3 linked regions of the Homo sapiens genome follow. The protein of the gene in region 1 interacts with the protein of each later gene in a biochemical or structural test. Each region holds a gene or a part of one and is shown on either strand. Other genes may lie near its edges. The genes, in order: FZD8, SDCBP and LRP6.

Region 1 (7,541 bases):
TATAAAAATAATCTCACCTGTTTAAAGCTAGCAGAGATTGATGAGGCCAGTTCACCTCTACCTCCCCTTCCATTTATGGACTGAGAGACTCAAGACATAACCCTTTGAAAGGCAGATTTTTAAAACACCAAGATGCCCCAATATTACCATTAGAGGTTTTGTTATTGTTGTTGTGGGTTTTGTCTTTTTTTTTTTTTTTTTTTTTTTTTTGAGACAGGGTCTCTTTCTATTACCTAACCTGGAGTACAGGCATGATCACGGCTCACTACAGCCTCAAACTCATGGACTCAAGCGATCCTCCCACCTCAGCGCCTCAAGTAGCTGGGACCACAGGTGCGTGCTACAGGCCCGACTAATTTTTTTTTTTGTTTTAGACAGACTCTTACTGTGTTGCCCAGGTTGGAGTGCAGTGGCAAAATCTCAGCTCACTGCAACCTCTGCCTCCCAGGTTCAAGCAATTCTCTTGCCTGAGTCTCCCAAGTAGCTGGGATTACAGGCACCCACCACCATGTCCAGCTAATTTTTGTATTTTTGGCAGAGACAAGGATTCCCCATGTTAGCCAGGCTGGTCTCGAACTCCTGACCTCTAGTGATCCTCTGACCTCGGCTTCCCAAAGTGCTAGGATTACAGGCGTGAACAACCACCGTGCCTGGCCTTGTTTTTTTGTTGTTTTTTTTGTTGTTGTTGTTGTTTTGTTTTTGGTTTTTTTTTTTTTGGTAGACTCGGGTCTTACTATGTTGCTCAGACTGCTCTCCAACTCCTGGCCTCAAGCGATCCTTCCACCTTGGCCTCCCAAAGCACTAAGACAAACGTAAGCCACTGAGCCCAGCCAGTGATAAGAATTTTATATTATCTAATAATATAGTACTTAACTGTTTTCTTGAGAGAAAATAATATTTGGCATTTATTTATTTAGAGACAGGGTCTTACTCTGTTGCCCAGGCTGGAGTGCAGTGATACAGTCATGGCTCACTGCAGCCCCAGCCTCCAAAACTCAAGTGATCCTCCCACCTCAGCCTCTGGTGTAGCTGGGACTACAGGCACATGCCACCGCACCCAGCTCATGTTTGTATTTTTTGTAGAGACAGGGTTTTGCTATGTTGCCCAGGCTGGTCTCGAACTCCTAGACTCAAGCGATCTGCCTGCCTCAGCGTCCCAAAGTGCTGGGATTACAGGCATGAGTCACCGTATCTGGCCAATATTTGGCAGTTTATAACACCTGAGAAATTGTATTAGTTACCAAAGAGTTCCTCATTTAATCTTTGGAACGTATCATTCTGTTAGTATATGCCAGGCTCTCTCTTCCATCCAGATTCTTATATTGGATTTTTAGATGGTAATCCACTGGAACATGATTTCCCCAAAGTTTCTTAAATTTGTTACAGACAGTATTGATAGTCCCCTGTCTAACTCGGTAGCCAACGTTTTGTAAAACCTTCCCTCCTCTGAGGTAGATTCCTGATTCCAACTGTTTACATTATTTGCTTGCAGGCCATTCAGCAACAAGCCATCTGCTCAGAAATCCCTTTAGAAACTTCCCTACATTATTTATGTCACTACTAAAGCTATTTCCCCTCCCCTAAAAAACAGCTGCTTTACATACAATGAAAATATCATTATTTAGCCATAGAAGTTGATATATGTTCTGGTTACTTCTAGGTAACCCATCATTACCTTTTACGCACTAATTGGCTACAGAAGTCTCTCCCTTCTCTGAAAGACTACCAAGTAGCCGTTTAATTTAACAGTAGATGTAAAATGCGATTCTTATATTCTCTCAATTAAAAGTACATTTGTCATGACTTTTATGTAACTGGTTTTAACCTCACAAATCACTAAGATCTCCCAAATAGCTGATATGATTTTTGAAATTCTGAACTTCAGTCTGCTTATTTTCTCATGCAAACTTAACATACTTACCCAAAATTTCCACATTCCACATCATCAAACTTTTCATCTTGTCTCAAAAGAAAAAAGAAAAAAAATTTAAAGCCAATTAAGAGCCAAAATCAACCATTTTCAGCTTCAATTTCAATTTTCAAATGTCAGTTTGTTTTTACCCAATTCTAGCAAATTTATGTAGTGTAATTCTAAACTTCACTATTTGACATTTCCCCGTGGAAGAAAAGCAACAGAAACTTTTCACCATCTGTGTTGCTCTTGGAAACCAGCCCCTCCCATCTGTGGTGCGGGCAGTGCAGCACCCTTGCTGGTCTTTGGGGCTCTGCCTGCACCGCTGCCCTCAGATCAGCACTGGAACCTCTGGCAATTACCTGCAGCTGATGCGTTCTGGAGACTCGCCCTCTGGAAACAAGGTGCCAACCGCAGAGATAGTGAATTTCTACATTCAACATACAAGTGGGAATTCCGATTTGCAGGAGGTGAGAAAAGAAAAAAAATTTTTTAATCAAGTAAAGGTCTAGTCTGTATTTTTGAATAGCCCGTTTTCTGCTGAATCAGCTAATATTTCTGAAGCCTTTGAATTCCGAATTCCTACGGACTTTAGTTTTTCCAAAACAAAAGTGGGAAGGAAGTGTTGTTTTTCAGTATAAAGAGGTTCAACTCTATAGACTAAAACTAAAAAAGTTAAAAAGATAGGGGGGTATAACTATAGATTGGTGGATATGCCTAGAACACAGAACTTGCCAAAAACGGGGCGCTGGGGCAGGGTGCGGTCTGACAGTCTACTTGTAATATGTTTCATAATGAGGTTGCTAACTGAGCTACAGAAAGCAGGAGGAGGAAGACATAGATGCCATCAGCTCAAGCAATCTACAAATACTGCTGGTTATTTTTGTTTTATGACAAGAGTTGTTTCTGAACGGACAACCACGAGCTACCACCACCACCAGCAGCGCCCCGAAAACCGGAACTGGCCTCAAATGTACTTTTAATTCTTTTGCTCTGTCCCCACGCCCTCTGCAACTTTTGTTCTCCAACTGTACTTGTTCCGGTATGAAACCTGGCAAATAGCAAAAATCTTGAAACAAGAAGAGAGTGAGAGAGCGGAGAGAAAAGGGAGGGAAGGAAGGAGAGGGAGGAGGGGAAGAGGAGGAGGGGGGAGAGAAAGTGGTGGGGGAGAGAGAGAAGGAAAGGAGGTGGGGAGAGAGAGAGAGGGAAGACAGAAGAGAGGCAGGGAGGAAGAGGGAGAGAGGGGGACGGAGATGGGGAGGAGGCGGGAGGGAGGGAGAGAAAGAGAGAGAGAAACATATTCTGCCACCCTCCTGGCTAACTGAAATGCTTGTTCCCGAGATTACAGTAATTACTGCCCCAGCATGAGTTCCATACAAGCGCTAAATGAAACAGCACATCAATTAAAAAATAAACACTCCATTCTAGGAGAAAGACAGCCCCCTGGGACGCCCTAACAAGCGTAAATGAACCTGCCAGGCCGCCGGCCCGGGCCGCCCGCAGCCCCCCTCCCGGCCCGTCTTAAGGTGGCGGCGGAGCCGGCGGGGGCAGCGTTCGCTGGCGGTGGCCCAAGCGGCTGCTAAAAGCAGCCCGGGTCCGGCTCCGGCCTCGTGCAGAGAGCAGATACGTGTCGCGGAGTCCACGCCAGAGCGCAGCGCCGCCTCCCACCAGAGAAAAGGAGGCTCTGGCAAAAGCCTGTGAACTTGGGATGGATGAATAGACGTCCTGAAAGAACGAAGGGAAGACAGGGAATCCAGCCCCAGAGTTTCCAGCCTGTCCTATTTATAAGTTTCGAGGTTTGTTTTGAATTTTAGAAAGAAATTGAATGATTTTTCCTAAGAAAGCACGGCGGCTCGGGGCTTCCTATATTTTATCTCACCTAATTATCAAAGCCCCCTTGGAGATCTGTGCTATGATCACCCAACTCTCTAGGTGGGGAAACTGAGGCTCCCCCAGGTCACGCAGCGGAGGCGGGAGGAGAGTCTCTGGCGGGCATTTGTCCCCCGCGCCCCTCGCGCGCCCAAGGCTGGGCTCCGGGGCATCTCACCCGGGCCGTCCCGGGTCCAGCCCCAGTTTAGAATGACTCCACACCCCCCACATCTCCAAGTCTCAGAAACCATCGTTCTGAGAACCCCAAGGAGGACACCCTTTCCCGGGTCTTCTGCAGCGCCGAGCCCCGGCAGGCCTCCCCGGCGCTCGCCTGCTGCGAGACCTTCCTGCCGCCCCGAGGAGCACGAGACCCCAGCCGCCTGCAGATCACCCACATTTGCGGAGGGTGGCAGCAGGGGCTTGGCTGGTTTGAAACGCGCCGGGGAGGCGCGCGCTGCACCAAACCCCGTCCCTGTCCCCAAGGGCAGACTCGGGGTAAGGGGACCAAGACCTCCGACGCACTCAGCGCCATGGGGACAGCCATGGCCAACACTCTGTCTCTGCGGTCAATCCCAAGGTTACCAAAACTCTCCATCCGCAGAGAGCGCGCACAGCAGTGCGGACACTCGGGGACTGCCTTAAGGAAGGCTGAGCCCTGGGAGCGCGTGGACTCCGCCCTACCGCCCGGCGATTGGCTCGCGGGGCTGGGGGCGGAGACCGAGTCCGCGCTGTATAAATATTCATGAGCCGGCAGCGCGGCGCGAGCGGGGCTGGAGCCGGGAAGTTGGGCTAAGGGCGCTGCTCCCGCCGAGGAGGAGGCGGCGGCTGGGCGCGGGCCGCGCCACTCAGGTGTCCGCTCCGCCTTCCGGTCTGGATTTGCTCCTGGGTGTCCAGCAGGAAGGAGACTGTGTGCACCTCGCCCGACTGCGGCCGGAGCGCGGCGCTGACTTTTCCAGGCGGCGGGGGTCCGTCTGTCCCGGCGGCGGACGGACGAAGGACGGACGCCGGAGAAAGAGGGCGGCGGCCTGGGCCGAGGCGGGTCCCCAACTCCGGCGGCGGCGGCGGCGGCTTGGCCTTGGGGGCGGGCATGAGCCCCCGGGGGCCGAGTGGTGGCCGCCAGGGCTGACCCGGCGCGGCAAGCGGCCCGGCCCAGCCATCTTGACTGCGCACCGCGGCCCCAGAGGAAACTTGCGGCGCCTCCGCCCTCTCTGTCCGGCGGAGTCACCGCCGCCCGGCGCGGCGGGGAGAAGTGGTCGGGCGCGCGGAGAGGAGGCGAGCGAGCGCGGGACGATGAGCCGAGGCCCGGCCGCTCTGCGCCGCGAGGGCTGAGCGCGACCCGGGGCCAGCAGAGCGGACCTACGGACTGTGGCGCGCGCCTGCAGCCGCCTTCAAACCCCCGGAGCGGCGGAAAGGAGTGCGGAAGGGCCCTGCCCAGGCTGCGGGCCGCGCCGCTGCGGACGCGCCCCTAGAAGGGGTTAGATTATCGGCAGACCCCCCTCCCGGGCGAAGCATAAGGGAGACCCCAGATCACCCGCTGTACCCGTCTGCGGCTCTCTCGTGGGCCCCCCCCCCGGCACCCCTCTGCGCGCCGCCTGGAGGGCGAGGGCACCGGGCCGAGGCGCACAGCATGGAGTGGGGTTACCTGTTGGAAGTGACCTCGCTGCTGGCCGCCTTGGCGCTGCTGCAGCGCTCTAGCGGCGCTGCGGCCGCCTCGGCCAAGGAGCTGGCATGCCAAGAGATCACCGTGCCGCTGTGTAAGGGCATCGGCTACAACTACACCTACATGCCCAATCAGTTCAACCACGACACGCAAGACGAGGCGGGCCTGGAGGTGCACCAGTTCTGGCCGCTGGTGGAGATCCAGTGCTCGCCCGATCTCAAGTTCTTCCTGTGCAGCATGTACACGCCCATCTGCCTAGAGGACTACAAGAAGCCGCTGCCGCCCTGCCGCTCGGTGTGCGAGCGCGCCAAGGCCGGCTGCGCGCCGCTCATGCGCCAGTACGGCTTCGCCTGGCCCGACCGCATGCGCTGCGACCGGCTGCCCGAGCAAGGCAACCCTGACACGCTGTGCATGGACTACAACCGCACCGACCTAACCACCGCCGCGCCCAGCCCGCCGCGCCGCCTGCCGCCGCCGCCGCCCGGCGAGCAGCCGCCTTCGGGCAGCGGCCACGGCCGCCCGCCGGGGGCCAGGCCCCCGCACCGCGGCGGCGGCAGGGGCGGTGGCGGCGGGGACGCGGCGGCGCCCCCAGCTCGCGGCGGCGGCGGTGGCGGGAAGGCGCGGCCCCCTGGCGGCGGCGCGGCTCCCTGCGAGCCCGGGTGCCAGTGCCGCGCGCCTATGGTGAGCGTGTCCAGCGAGCGCCACCCGCTCTACAACCGCGTCAAGACAGGCCAGATCGCTAACTGCGCGCTGCCCTGCCACAACCCCTTTTTCAGCCAGGACGAGCGCGCCTTCACCGTCTTCTGGATCGGCCTGTGGTCGGTGCTCTGCTTCGTGTCCACCTTCGCCACCGTCTCCACCTTCCTTATCGACATGGAGCGCTTCAAGTACCCGGAGCGGCCCATTATCTTCCTCTCGGCCTGCTACCTCTTCGTGTCGGTGGGCTACCTAGTGCGCCTGGTGGCGGGCCACGAGAAGGTGGCGTGCAGCGGTGGCGCGCCGGGCGCGGGGGGCGCTGGGGGCGCGGGCGGCGCGGCGGCGGGCGCGGGCGCGGCGGGCGCGGGCGCGGGCGGCCCGGGCGGGCGCGGCGAGTACGAGGAGCTGGGCGCGGTGGAGCAGCACGTGCGCTACGAGACCACCGGCCCCGCGCTGTGCACCGTGGTCTTCTTGCTGGTCTACTTCTTCGGCATGGCCAGCTCCATCTGGTGGGTGATCTTGTCGCTCACATGGTTCCTGGCGGCCGGTATGAAGTGGGGCAACGAAGCCATCGCCGGCTACTCGCAGTACTTCCACCTGGCCGCGTGGCTTGTGCCCAGCGTCAAGTCCATCGCGGTGCTGGCGCTCAGCTCGGTGGACGGCGACCCGGTGGCGGGCATCTGCTACGTGGGCAACCAGAGCCTGGACAACCTGCGCGGCTTCGTGCTGGCGCCGCTGGTCATCTACCTCTTCATCGGCACCATGTTCCTGCTGGCCGGCTTCGTGTCCCTCTTCCGCATCCGCTCGGTCATCAAGCAACAGGACGGCCCCACCAAGACGCACAAGCTGGAGAAGCTGATGATCCGCCTGGGCCTGTTCACCGTGCTCTACACCGTGCCCGCCGCGGTGGTGGTCGCCTGCCTCTTCTACGAGCAGCACAACCGCCCGCGCTGGGAGGCCACGCACAACTGCCCGTGCCTGCGGGACCTGCAGCCCGACCAGGCACGCAGGCCCGACTACGCCGTCTTCATGCTCAAGTACTTCATGTGCCTAGTGGTGGGCATCACCTCGGGCGTGTGGGTCTGGTCCGGCAAGACGCTGGAGTCCTGGCGCTCCCTGTGCACCCGCTGCTGCTGGGCCAGCAAGGGCGCCGCGGTGGGCGGGGGCGCGGGCGCCACGGCCGCGGGGGGTGGCGGCGGGCCGGGGGGCGGCGGCGGCGGGGGACCCGGCGGCGGCGGGGGGCCGGGCGGCGGCGGGGGCTCCCTCTACAGCGACGTCAGCACTGGCCTGACGTGGCGGTCGGGCACGGCGAGCTCCGTGTCTTATCCAAAGCAGATGCCATTGTCCCAGGTCTGAGCGGAGGGGAGGGGGCGCCCAGGAGGGGTGGGGAGGGGGGCGAGGAGA
Region 2 (6,205 bases), on another chromosome or scaffold:
TAATTCCATTATTTTGAAATTATCTTCAGACTCAGGTAGATAATCAAATATTTTTTTCTCTTCTAAATTTCAAACAAGGTAAGCTGTATAGCAGTAGCAGATTTCCTTTTATATTCAACCTCTGAACCATGGTAAGTGTGTGACTTATTATTTTTTCTATACTCTTTAAAAACATTGTTGTATCTTGCAGGTAGTATGACATAGGAGAAAAAACTTGAGTCAGACCACACTAATAGAATTTCCAAAGTCAGTTTCAGTGTTATTAAATATTACCTGGTCTCAGGTATTGCTAGGGACAATCAGTAGCCTCAATGAGTTCCTGCTGCATGGCAGGTGTGAACCAGCTCTTCTTTTGGCCCTGGTAATCTGGGGTTCCCAGCTGGAAGCAATTTTCCTGACACTCAGTCTCAGCACTGAGAGCTGTTCTTAGGGCCCCTGAATGTCAGCTTGTTCTGGGAGATGATGTCTCCCACAGCTGAAAGTGAATTTCACCTGCCTGTCTTCTAGATCATGCATAAGTTTGGTGAAAGCAAATGATGCAGTAATAGACAGACTAAAATGTAACTTTATTTATACATATTTAATTAGAATAGACATAAACCAAAAAGAAGAAAAAAATCAGGATAAAGTGTCAACTATCATTTTGTTTGCAAGGAGGAGTCAGGAAAAGGAACAAGTTATCAGAAAAATATTCTAAGACCATCCCAAAGTAGCTAGGTTACATAATCTTAAGAGTCAAATGCCAAAATTAAGTATTATACCACTTAATCCACAAATGAACAAAAGGGGAGTCAAAAGTTTATCCTGTTTAGTGTAATAACTTTTACATCACATATAGTGATTCACTTCTTAAAAGTGGCACTGGCAACTTTTAGAAGAAAGAAGTTTCCATTATGTGTTGACTAAAAAATCTCAAAAACAACTAAGCAGCTATGCTATAGCTCAGTAAGTACCATTAAACTGTTCTGGGCTAGTGTACATTTCAGGTTAATAGAGAACTACATTTTGGGTTTTTAGAAAGGCAGCAATAATTATATTTTGGCTTTTAGTCTAGATGCTTAACATAGTTAAGGCGACAGTTCAAGCATATTAAGTGAAGGTAGTTAAAATTTAAGAATCATCACAATCTCTTGAAACCTACATACACTGTTTAATGCTTACATGGAATGAAACCAGTGTTCTTAATTGGCATTTTACACACACACACACAGAATTTAAAAAAAAAATCAAAGGCAATCATTCTAAATGTACTATGATAGCATGTTAAAGATGCAAGTATGCTATAGAACTAAAGTAATATGAACAGCACTACTCATTACCTAGGAGAAAGGTGACTGGTTTTCACACAAAGCTAAGCCTGTAACAGTCATCCTAATCACAATGGCTTATAAAAGCATCAGGTTTCCAGTAGAGAAACTATTCTAGGAAAGTCAGTAAATCTCTTGAAAGTTTCACATCTGTAAAACCAGGATAAGGCTACAACTATTTTGAAATCTGAACAAGGTATCAGATGAAAGAGTAAGATTCCCAGCCATAATGTAAGATAGAAAGGTCCTCATGCAGCATATGCTCGCTGGCTCCGGGAAGGCTTCACGTGCATAATACAGAAGTTGCCAAAGAAGGAAACTGGAGACGTTCAGCTACATTTCCATGGTGCCGTGAATTTTAAACCTCAGGAATGGTGTGGTCCATTAGGCTTTTCATAATGCTTGGTGCCATCCTACAAGAGAGGTACTTTTATTATATACCGAGATTCTGGTTTTTGTTTTTCAAAATGCTACATTAATCCAAGAAAATTCCCAATTCCAATTTAGCACCTGTTAGCATCAAATATGAATGGAGAGAAGGGAAAGATCTTTTAAATGAGTCCAGAAGCATCTCTGGTAATCTAGTTGTTGACAGACACTCAGTGGGAAAGACTATCTGTATTTGGCTAGAGAAGTTAGGATACAAATGAATTCCTGTGCATTAAACATGGTGATTTTTAAAAAACAGAAAGAAAATGACAAGGCTGTGATGAGTTGGGGTAGAGGGATCCATCAGTGATTTAAGAAAAGAGAACCCTAGAAAAATTAGTCATGACAATAACTCCTTTTTACCCCCTCCAAGGGTAGCTAGGTGCATTCTATCCAGAAGCCAACACAAAAATTTCATTACAATGGTTATGTTTATGAATCTTTTAAATCTCATTTTCACATGCATAATAGAGCTTCTGAAAGGATTCCAAGCTGGCTTGACAAAAACAGCTATGGTAGATGCTAGGATATGAAAAGCTCTATAGAAGGAACCTTGTTGCCTCTTTTCAGTTCTGATCACTTGGCTTTCTAATCCTCAGTTCCTGAGCACAGATAGCACCAACACACCACACTTGTCTATCTGCCTCTTGAGATTCTGGAGAGAAGGGAAACTTACTCTTAGCATTCCACCAGCAAGAATTCTCCATTACGAACCACCACAACTATATTTATACTGAGCAGAGGGGTGGTAGGCAGTGCAACTGCAGTCAATTGCACTGCAAATTGAAAGCTGAAAGCATGCCCACTTCTCCTTGCATACCTTTTTTCTACCAGGCATTATAAAAACTGAGGAAAGTATATGTGAATTTTATTCCGTACTTGGGAAGTTGTAAGAGCTCATCCTTACCAACCCTCTGATTTAAATAACTTACTTCAAATTTCTAGATAAAACACCAGTATCCATTCCTTGGGTAAAAGAACCAAAGGGCTGAGAATTAAAGTATAGTGCTTATATTAAGTCACATGACCATATGCATTAAGTTGAGGAATTGTTTACTTACCGCTTAATAATATGTTCAAAGATAAAAGCAGGCATGATTGTAATAGTAACTACAGTCCCAGATGTTGACAGTATGTCTGCAATTTGAGAGTCCTGATAAAAACACATATTAAAAATTAATTCCACAGAGGCTTTATTTAATAAATACAAAACTATGCCAGTCTTGGTAAAGAAATACAAAATATATGTCTTGGTATTTCTAATTTTTTCTAGTATTTCTTACCAAGTTTAATTGTACACTATTTTACAGCTAGTAACCAAATTGCTTAAGTAAACTGAGTTGAATATTTTAACCAAAAAAAAACTTTTCCTTTCTGAATATTAGATAATTTTCCCCATATACAATATTACCATCTCCTCTTATTAACTGTGTATTCTAAATCAAATTCTATGAAATGAGGAGGTCATGCTTAAAACTTTTTGACCTTAAGACAGACTTATTTAGGAATTTGTGGAGGAGAAAAACTATAAAAATAAAGTATTAATATGAACCAAAACTATTATTCATTTCCTTATATTCCTGGATTGAGAAATGCTGGGCCACTATTCATATTCTAAATCTTTGTTGCCCATATTTCCACAGAATTCTAGTGTGAGGTACTTCTGAGATCATTTATTCCAGCCCACTTGTTATAGGAACTGTAGTTCTAGATGACAGCCCAAATAATTCCGGTGACTGGCCAGACCAAGAGTTCAGGCCCCACGTTCCCCATCTCCCACCTAAGTCAATATGAAAACAGCGCCACCTAAATACAGTCAAAAGACAGACATTTTCTAAAACTGCAGCAGAACATGGCACAAAGTCTGTTCCTTACCTTCAATCCAATGACATTCTGTCCATTGATTTCACAGATGTTATGTTCCGTGAGAAGACCATTTCTGGCTGCAGAGCTATCTTTCACTATGGATGTTATTTTTCCATTTTTAAAGATAAAACCAACATGTCCAGTGCTATCCTTATGCATGGTAATCGTCCGTTCAAAGGGCCTACAAACATAATTGGTTCAATTAAAAACTTAATTCTAAGCTAAACATTTTAATGGATTTCATATAGCATAAATGTTGCCATATTGGATACTTTTATAATAAACACTGTTTCTAATAAGAGCAACTTATGGCTCTGATTTTATACATTCACGGAACATCTTTGTGTAAAAGTTTTTTTTAAGTTTATTCATTATGGTTTGACTGATTTACTAATCAACATTTCCTTCTTTAAGTATAAAAGACAACTGCTTTATATGGTTTTATCAATATGTTTTTCTTTTATAATTAGACTTTACAGCATTAAGAATGACATAGGCTTTTTAACTAAATCACAGTGGTAAAGATAATTTTTATTTTTTATTAACTTTTGGTATTTTCTAGAGCCAAATCATTTTTAGGACTATTTCTTTTATTTAAAACCTTTAAAATATTTCTCACATCTTGATTTTGAAAATTTTATACATTGCTATCTTTGAAAAGAAAAACTAGAGCAGCAGTAAGACTTAAGTTCCTCAAGCCCCTTTGGAAAGGGAGGCATGCAGCTATTATTAAAAGGCATCCAGCTGTCCCTCTAGAGTTGTTATAGCAGTCACATTTGCTTGATTCTCTATAAACTCTGTTATCATGTTATCATAAGGGTTTTAGGATCAACTTGTGTTTACATTATTAAATTCAGAAGAGGCATTTCTTCCTGTTAGTACAACTTACTCTTTGAAACTCTGCTTAGATAGAAAGTAAAAAGGACATTCATCTGAAACATTTACGAAATACCTAAACTGAATGAGAAACTGGAAACACAAAGATAAAACAGAAGTTTCACTGAGAAGGAACAAAAACTCAAAGCTTACTGTAACAATGCAATATACGTCTACCCTTAATTGGGTATGGAGTAGACAAGAAAATAAATGGAGGCCCCTATTTCATGTGCTAAATGTTTAAGTTCTAAATGAATGAGCTGCTAAATAGAATATTCCATGTTCTTGAAAACTACTGCTTCATAACTACCCAAAAGTCTTGATACGGTTTTCAGAACTCCCATACTACTTGGAAGTCTGCATGGGCTCTGACCCTCACAATGAGGGACCACTGTGTGTGAACACCCTAGGCTGGATGTATCTAAGCAGTAAGTTGGAAAGTGAGCCCAGAGATGCCCTGCAACTCAGTTACTTCTCCAACATACGTTTTCTATTTTCTAGAGAGATTTGTCCTATAAACTCTGAAATAAGGTATCGTATCAGAATGCTTTAAAAACAATGTAAGAAAAATCTGCACCACACAACTGCAAGACTATAAGGCTCATCAATAACATTTGATCATTTTCTGCAACAAAATAATATACTCACAAACTCTGAAAGCCCAAAAAAATGGAAAACTAGTATTGAATTTTCATTTGAGCTGTTTAGTAACAGCTTACCTGTCACGAATGGTCATGGTAATCTTCTCTCCAAAAGCCTGTTTGAGCACCTTGTGCGCTTTATCAGAGCTCCATCCTGCACAGTTTTCACCATTGATCTGAAGTACTTGGTCCCCAAATCTCAGACCAACCAATGAGGCTGGAGAATTAGCCTGGACTAGCTGAACAAATATACCCTAGATAATAAGAAAATAATTTTTGTCATTTACCACTACTATGATACGGTTTTAAACGCTGGAAAATTAGGAAACAACTGTTTATGTTGAAAACTCTACCCCAGTGACAAAAAAGAAAGAAAAAGAAAAAAAGGAAAAACTATATGAGTATATTAAGTTATCACCTCAAAAGAAACTGAAAAATTTATCAAGACAGCAACTCCAAAGAATAAGGCAAAAAAGTGAGATTTCAATGGCAATTTCTATACCAAATCATGACCCACCTGACCAACCACAATCCCCCCCTTCAACTTGGAATACAAAACTAAGGAAAATACAGTAGGACAACTTTAATAAATGCAAGCGTCTGAGTCTGATAGAATACCAAATTATCAGTACATAATCATATTTAGGGGAAAAGCGAGTCACATGTTAGAAAGTTTGATGAGTTCTTTTACAGCTTAATAAATGACAGTTTAAGGTCATAATTCTACCTTTTGAGCTGAAGCATTCCTTTACCCATTTGCTAAATTGTGTATAATCAAGTAAGATTAAAGTTTATTTGTTAGACTAAAAAGATGGGCATATTAAATCCACATGCACAGGCTTATAAAGAACACACAATGAAATAAATACAGAAAACTCAAATACTGTTAACCAATAACTACACTCACATGGATATTTTTACTTATGTAAAATCTCAATCAGAAGTTGAACAAAATATAAATAGGTAAGTATAAAAGAAGAATAAGCCTGGTAAAATATAAGTGCATCTACTTCTACAATCCTAAGCTAGGTCACATATTTCTATCACACATCTGTTACATTGTAGAATGATAAGCAAGAACTAGGT
Region 3 (7,672 bases), on another chromosome or scaffold:
TCAGAGCTTTGGGAGGATGAAGCAGGAGGATCACTTAAGCCCAAGACTTTGAGACTGCAATGAGCTGTGATTACACCACTGCACCCCAGACTGAGTGATGAAGCAAGACTTTGTCTCTTTAAAAAAAAAAAAATTGTGAACGTTATACAAATTAAATCTCAAATCATGAAAGCATTTGAGGATATGTCCCTGAACAAGCAAAAATTATAGCAAAAAGTAACATTAACAAGGTACTCCATATTATTTCATTTAAAACACCCAATAACCCTGCAAACTAGTCAGGTATCATTATCCACACTACCAGTAAAGAAACTGAGACCTAGAGAAGCGGACTAGACCAGAACCACAAAGTTATGAAGTTGTGACACTTGGGCTTTAAATCCAAGATTTTAGTATTGAAATTCCCAAATCTTTCCTTTATACCTTGTCATGTGATGATAGAGATAGGGACACAGCACTAACAGTATTCCCTGGCTTTCTGCTACTAATTCAACAGGGCTACAGGACAGAAGGTCTCCCAGACTCTCACATACCCCATCACACCCAGCCAATGTTAAAGCCCCAATTCTTTGTGGGGGAAAAAAATGACCTAAATGCAACAAATCAATCAGATTTTTCTCCTTGGAGTCCAAGGTTGACTAAATATCTTTACTATAACAGAGGATGACATTCTCAAAGAATGAATTAATTCTAAATTATGAACAAAAATATTTTACATCAAAAGACAGTTTTACTTCAAATAATATGTACTCACAGCTAAGTACAGTACTGTTACATATTAGAAGACCACCTTACACCATATTTCGCCACATTTAAAACGAGAGCTCCACTTCTGAAAACTTTGCTAGTGGAAACGAGACAATTTAAACTATTACCTCTTCCAGGTCTTGTTACATAAATAAGTGCAACCTATCTAAATTCCAATAATGAACAAACCCAGCTCTGGTCTCAAAGCTGGTGTTAAACAAACGGCATTTACATCACACGCTTCTCCTCCAAGAAATACAACTAGACAACCAGAAACATCCCAAGTTATAAGTTTTCCCACGACTCTAACCAATCAGCTGGTTCTCATATTTGTCAGCCCTATTAACCTTATGTCTTAAAATACATACATATTCTTATGTCAAATATAGTTGTTTCTAACAGCTACAGCAAAACCCCTTTCAATAGAGTATGCCAATAATAAAATAAGTATATACTTATGAAACCTCTCCAGTACGTAACACTTCATTAAAATTTCTGCCACAAAAATCTAATGAACACTACCTTTCCGGGGTTTACATGTGGGAAAACTTTGTAATATGCTTAGAGTATCAAGTAATATAACATGCAAACACAATGCTGCATTACTACAGAGTAACTGAAGAAAGTATTTCTCCTCCTCCAAAAAAAAACTCAATCATTCTCATCCGAAATACATATACACAGTACACGCAAAAATATACACCTGTCACAGACTATTAGTTACTATTAGTGTTCTGTAAACTTAAATTAGTTTGGAGAACTTAACAAAAGTTTAGCTTGTTAACACCTAAAAATCTCCAGCGACCAGCGGTCACATGCCTGAAAAGAACTTACTATGAACGCCAGTAAGAACTTTACCAAACCAAAACTACAAGCCACCGTATCGAGCAGTACTTAAATTCCTCTGCTGGTAAATGCTCCACAGCCATCACAGCCATCTCAAGTTCAACACTAAATAGTTTGAGAAGAGCTGCCGACGGGCCAGTCAAAAATCTTTGTGAACTGTCACAAAAGTCACAGAGCATGTGTCAGCTTTGCAGTCCAATTCAAAACATCATAGTGCCATCGAATTCAAGCGATTCCCAGAGCAAATTATCTCGAACAGCCTATGCAATTTACCAAAGTGCCAAGCAGTCCCCAGGGGTGCAGAGCAAATTATCATTTTGGTCCCAGGACCGGCTCCTCTTCACACGAGGATGAATTTCCCTACTTAGTGCCAACTGTACACTTGCATACTCCGAAAATAGGGGCAAGCCGTGAATACCAGAGGTTACAAGGGCAATGTTTTATTTTATTATGGGCTGAAGCTCAGAAGGCTCCCAATGCTGAAACGCTCGACCTATAACCCCGGAGTCACTTTCCAACTGCGCTCTCACCCAGGGTCATTATATCCCAAACGGAAGCCAATCATTACCTGTAACAAGGCCTGGAAAAAATAGCAAGAGGGCTTTAAAAGTTCACCTAAGAAACACCGAAACGGGGTGGGGAGTGGGTGGCGGGGCTTCGATGGATAAGGCCAACCTTAAAGCATCTCGGACTCAAACATTTTAAAAGCCAAAATACGTACAAAGACCCTTTTCCCTGGAAGACCCCAGGCAGAGAGAGGCACACAGACACTCAGTCATCCCGACAGCATGGGGTGCCAAGGGTTCCCTAAGACCAGCAGCCGGGATCGAAGCTCCGATGTGTCCGGGGAAGGTCTGGGAAGCCAGGCCAGGTCCGCATTGTGGCCGGGCGGTGCACGCAGCCCCTGCTCCCGGGCCCCTTTCTCTCCCCCTCCCCACGACCAGGCCTCTCCCCGCTCCTCTCCCCTTCTCCCTTCCTCCGTCCCTCCCCTCCCCCTAGACACATACAACAAGGCCACCTCCCCCCGAACCCCACCAACTTTCCAGTGCCCCCACTCTTCCCACCTCTCAGGAGCACACAGAAGCTGCAGGCCAGGAGGCTCCTCAGGACGGCCCCCATCTTCCCTTCTCGCGTTCTCTTCTCTCACCGGCGAGGGGTGGCCAGAAGTGGGGGAGGCGAGGAGCCGGGGCGGCCGCCGCAGCGGCAGGGCTGCACGCTCATACTTCCCAGCTTCCCAGCGAGAGAAGAAAGAAAGGGGCACGTCAAGGTTCCGCGCGCGCCGCCGCCGCCCTCTCTACCGCGCCGCTCGGCCCCGGGCTCGCGCGACGCCAGCGTCTGCTTCCATCCCGCCGCCTCCTCCCCCGGCGCCCCGCTTCCCCCGCGCAGCTCCTCATTCAGCCTCTGCCTCGCGCAGCGGCGCAGGGATACGGTCGGCACCGCCTCCTAGGGTCGCCGCGACCGTGTCCCTGCGCGCAACGAGCCCCTTCTCCCGGTACTGCCTCCTGTACGGCCAGGGAAGGGAGTCGGCAACCGCACGCACAGCCTCTGCCTGAGACCCTGGGAGAGGTTCTGGGCTAGCAGAGGCGAACTGGGAGGGAAAGCCTCCTCCCGGTGGCGCATTCCAGCGGGATTCTTTCCCGGACCGGCCGCTTCGGCCCTCCCCGCGGAGGGCGTGAGGCGGCGTTGAACAACATTGGAGCCGGCGTGGTCGGGACTACTTTCTGCGGCTCGGCCGGGCAGCCGTCTGCCCCGCTCTTTGTGCGGCCGCCGCCGGCAGGGCCAGGTGGGGCTCCGGTCTCGCGCCCCCAGCCACCTGAGACTGCCCAGCCGCGGTGCACGCGCGGGGAGCCACGGCGGATCCCGTTGCGGGGTGATGAGCTCCGTCTTCGGGGTTGGAAATCGGTTTCAGCATCCTTTTTTTGGGAGGGCGGAATTTTTGAACGCTGTTTACACCGGCTTTCAGCGTGGATCTGGTGAACGATATTAAAACGCCAATTCAAAACTGAGATTGTCATTTTTCTCCCGCCTTCCCAGAAATACAAACTGCCCCCAGAATTAAGCCCGACCAGCTAAAGATTTCTAAACTGGCAGATAAAATTCCAAGATAAATGCCTCAAAACCTAAGAGCAAAGGGACAATTGGACAAGACTATTTAGGATTTTACAAGTTGCATATAATAACGAATGTTTGGCATGCTTCGATTATCAATTCTCAGCTTGAGAAGGAAAAGATTCCCTAGAATCTCAGACTGTGCACAGCCTCTGCTACTCCCAGTGCATTGGGCATTCAGGAGTAATGGCCCAGACGCCCCCTGAAATCACCTGCCAGGCTTTCGTCTGGGCAGAGGCGCTCCAACAGTTAACCCTAATGGAGCCATCAGATGCATCCTGCCCAGCTGTCACACGCCCTTACCTGGAGGCAGATGGGCAAGAAAGTGGAGCTGCTACCACAATGTTAACAAGTACCTCAGTGACATTGGAGTTCACTAGTGCTTGAACACAAGTTATCATATTTGACACTCAAAACTACCCTGGGGAAAGGCAGGTTTTGTTACTTATTCTTTATTGCACAGAGGAGCAAAATGAGAACCTGAGAGGTTAATGACTTACCCAGGGCCACTCAAGTAATGAATAGCAGTACCTCAGCCCAATCCAGGTCTCTGACTTAAGCCACTCCGCTCCTTCCAAGAAATGCGCGCTGAACCAAAGGTGCTGCAGGTTTGTAAGTAGATGGACAGCAGAAACAGCCAAATCACTTTCTCCCAAATTCACCTGAGGTCTAGTCACCGTTTATTTAAATGACCTGCTTCTAAGAACCAAGTGAGTTTTGTATTCTGGCTTCCTCAAAGCAGGAAACTGGGCCGGGGGCGGGTGGCTCAGGCCTGTAATCCCAGCACTTTGGGAGGCCGAGGCGGACAGATCACGAGGTCAGGAGTTCGAGACCAGCCTGGTCCAACATGGTGAAACCCCCGTCTCTACTAAAAATACAAAAAAAATTAGCCGGGCATGGTGGCACACGCCTGTCATCCCAGCTGCTCAGGAGGCAGAGGCAGGAGAATGGCTTGAATCCAGGAGGCGCAGGTTGCAGTGAGCCGATATCGCGTCATTACACTCCAGCCTGGGCAACAGAGCAAGATTGCGTCTCAGAAAAAAAAAAAAAAAGAAAAGAAAGTTAACCTTCACTTTCACAGGCCCCTTCCAATGTCTGGGGAGGGGCCTTTATGGTATGTTCACATGGTCCTATTTGCAAAACAAAGATAATTTTGAATTCCTCTTCTGTATAATTGTATTATACAAAATTGTATAAGCTTCAAGTCCCACAAAGCCTGGATCTGTCCCTATTTATAATAGAAAATGCGGTACAACTGGCCGGGCACGGTGGCTCACGGCTGTAATCCCAGCACTTTGGGAGGCCGAGGCAGGCGGATCACGAGGTCAGGAGATCGAGACCATCTTGGCTAACACGGTGAAACCCCGTCTCTACTAAAAATACAAAAAATTAGCCGGGCGCGGTGGCGGGCGCCTGTAATCCCAGCTACTCAGGAGGCTGAAGCAGGAGAATGGCGTGAACCCGGGAGGCGGAGCTTGCAGTGAGCCTAGATAGCGCCACTGCAGTCCAGCCTGGGCGAAAGAGCGAGACTCCGTCTCGAAAAAAATAAAATAAAATAAAAAAGAAAATGCGGTACAACCTAAATCTCCTCAGACTATCAACCTAAGTAGGGGAATGAGATATTACACACTGCTGAAAAATAATAATTTAGAGGATTATGCAACAGTGTTGAATGTTTATAGTGAGTTAAGCTTTTTTTTTTTTTTTTTTTTTTTTTGAGACGGAGTTGTGCTCTTGCTGCCTGGACTGGAGTAAAATGGCACAATCCCGGCTCACCACAACTTCCTCCTCCCAGGTTCAAGTGATTGTCCTGCCTCATCCTCCTGAGTAGCTGGGATTACAGGCATGCGCCACCACACCCAGCTAATTTTGTATCTTTAGTAGAGACGGGCTTTCTCCATGTTGGTCAGGCTGGTCTCGAACTACCGACCTCAAGTGATCCGCTCTCCTTGGCCTCCCAAAGGGCTGGGATTACAGGCGTAAGCCACCGCGCCCGGCCGAGTTAAGCTTTTAAAAAGTGAAAGTGCATGTACATTTGATTATAGCTATGTAAAATAAAAATATATATAATATACAAACATAAATGCACACACATATATATAGCACATATTTGAGCAAAGACCAAAAGTAAGTGCACTAAAATAGGCATTAGGATGGTGAAATAATATGAGATGTAGTTTGCTTTTCTGTTCTTCAATTTTGTTTAATGTACTATATATTTACTACAAATTTTTAAAAGATGCTTAAGTGAAAATCTATAGGTTAAGCTTAAGCCCTAGAGAGAATGCCATTATTACTGCATAACTAATTTTGTTTCTCATTCTTTTAAGTGCCAATCAGATACCAATCACTCTGTTAAGTGTTGGGGATATAAAGATGAGAGTAATCATAGTCCCTACCCTCAAGAAGCTTACAGCCTAGTTTGGAAACACTGATTAATAAAGTGAGTAATTAAAATATTAAAATCTGCAGGGCACAGTGGCATACAACTGTAATCCCAGCACTTTGGGAAGTCAAAGTGGGCAGATCACTTGAGCCCAGGAGCTCGAGACCAGCCTGGGCAACATGGCGAAACCCCATCTCTACAAAAAATACAAAAATTAGCTAGACATGGTGGCGTGTACCTGGAGTCCTAGCTATTCGGGAGGCTAAGGTTGGAGGATCACTTGAGCCTAGGAGGCCAATGCTGCAGTGAGCTGTGATCTTGCCACTGCACTCCAGCCTGGGCAATACAGTGAGACCCTGTCTCCAACTAAAAAAAAAAAAAAGACAAAATTGCTAAGTGTAGAGATGCTTTTCTGCCTAGACAATTCAAAGAAGGGAAAAAAGGGCCAGGCGCAGTGGCTCACAACTTTAATCCCAGCTACTCACGAGGCTGAGGCACAGGAATCACTTGAACCCAGGAGGCGAAGGTTGCAGTGAGCCGAGATTGCGCCCCTGAACTCCAGACTGGGCAACAGAGTGAAACTCTGTCTCAAAAAAACAAAACAAAACAAAACAAAAGAAGGGAAAATAACCCTAGCGCTGAGGTTGGAAATACAAATCAGACTTTGCCAGGCCAACAAGACTGAAAAAAAATTTCAATCACAATAGTAGGTTTAAAGACACTGAATCATTAGAGAACTTAGTATGTTGGGGATTTGAAAGTAGATTCATATAGCTGATGCATGGAATGCTTTTAGAGAATGTCAGGAATTGAGGCAGGACCATTAAATAGCTATTGATTAATAAAAACCTTTTCAAGCCATGCTAAGAAGTTTAGATTTTAGCATATTAACAATGCGGACATTGAAGAATTTTGCACATTGTACAGAAGTCTATGAAAGGGGCAATCAGGACAGCAGCGCTGAGGACTGAAAAGACATCATGGATTTAAAGAATACGAGATTAAAACAGGACTTTTAGTTGTGAATTGAGAGAGAAACAGAGAGTAATGGGAGTCTCCTTTACAAAGAAAAGAAAACCTAAGAAGTATTTCAAGAAGGAGTGGGTAATAAGTTTAACAATGGCTCTTTTGTATTGGAGGTGTCTATGAAACATCCAGGTGGAGGCCGGGCGCGGTGGCTCACGCCTGTAATCCCAGCACTCTAGGAGGCCGAGGTGGATGGATCATCTGAGGCCGGGAGTCCGAAACCGGCACGGCTAACATGGTGAAACCCCATCTCTACTAAAAACAGAAAAATTAGCCAGGCATGGTAACACGTGCCTGTAATCCGAGCTACTCAGGAGGCTGAGACAGGAGAATTGCTTGAACCCGGGAGGCGGAGGTTGCAGTGAGCCAAGATCACGCCATTGCCACCCAGCCTGGGTAACAGAGTGCGACTCTGTCTGAAAAAAAAAAAAAAAAAAAAAAAGGCCGGGCGCGGTGGCTCACGCCTGTAATCCCAGCACTTTGGGAGGCCGAGGTGGGCGGATCACGAGGTCAGGAGGCCCAGACCATCCTGGCTAACACGGTGAAACCCCGTCTCTA

The links.
Region 2: the proteins of FZD8 (region 1) and SDCBP interact in far-western blotting, tested with the Homo sapiens proteins (one study listed by IntAct).
Region 3: the proteins of FZD8 (region 1) and LRP6 form a complex in vitro, tested with the Homo sapiens proteins (one study listed by BioGRID).

The regions. Positions count from the first base shown.
Region 1 is NC_000010.11:35,639,297-35,646,837, reverse strand, and holds the start of FZD8 (frizzled-8 precursor), read left to right. Parts: upstream 1-5,110; 5' UTR 5,111-5,408; coding exon 5,409-7,493; 3' UTR 7,494-7,541. Other genes in the region: zinc finger protein 469-like, read left to right, coding at 3,992-4,208, 4,425-5,110. UniProt on the Homo sapiens protein: Receptor for Wnt proteins. Component of the Wnt-Fzd-LRP5-LRP6 complex that triggers beta-catenin signaling through inducing aggregation of receptor-ligand complexes into ribosome-sized signalosomes.
Region 2 is NC_000008.11:58,577,201-58,583,405, reverse strand, and holds the end of SDCBP (syntenin-1), read right to left. Parts: intron 5,374-6,205; coding exon 5,198-5,373; intron 3,784-5,197; coding exon 3,612-3,783; intron 2,890-3,611; coding exon 2,798-2,889; intron 1,721-2,797; coding exon 1,666-1,720; 3' UTR 548-1,665; downstream 1-547. UniProt on the Homo sapiens protein: Multifunctional adapter protein involved in diverse array of functions including trafficking of transmembrane proteins, neuro and immunomodulation, exosome biogenesis, and tumorigenesis.
Region 3 is NC_000012.12:12,264,024-12,271,695, forward strand, and holds the start of LRP6 (low-density lipoprotein receptor-related protein 6 isoform b precursor), read right to left. Parts: upstream 3,022-7,672; 5' UTR 2,713-3,021; coding exon 2,658-2,712; intron 1-2,657. UniProt on the Homo sapiens protein: Component of the Wnt-Fzd-LRP5-LRP6 complex that triggers beta-catenin signaling through inducing aggregation of receptor-ligand complexes into ribosome-sized signalosomes.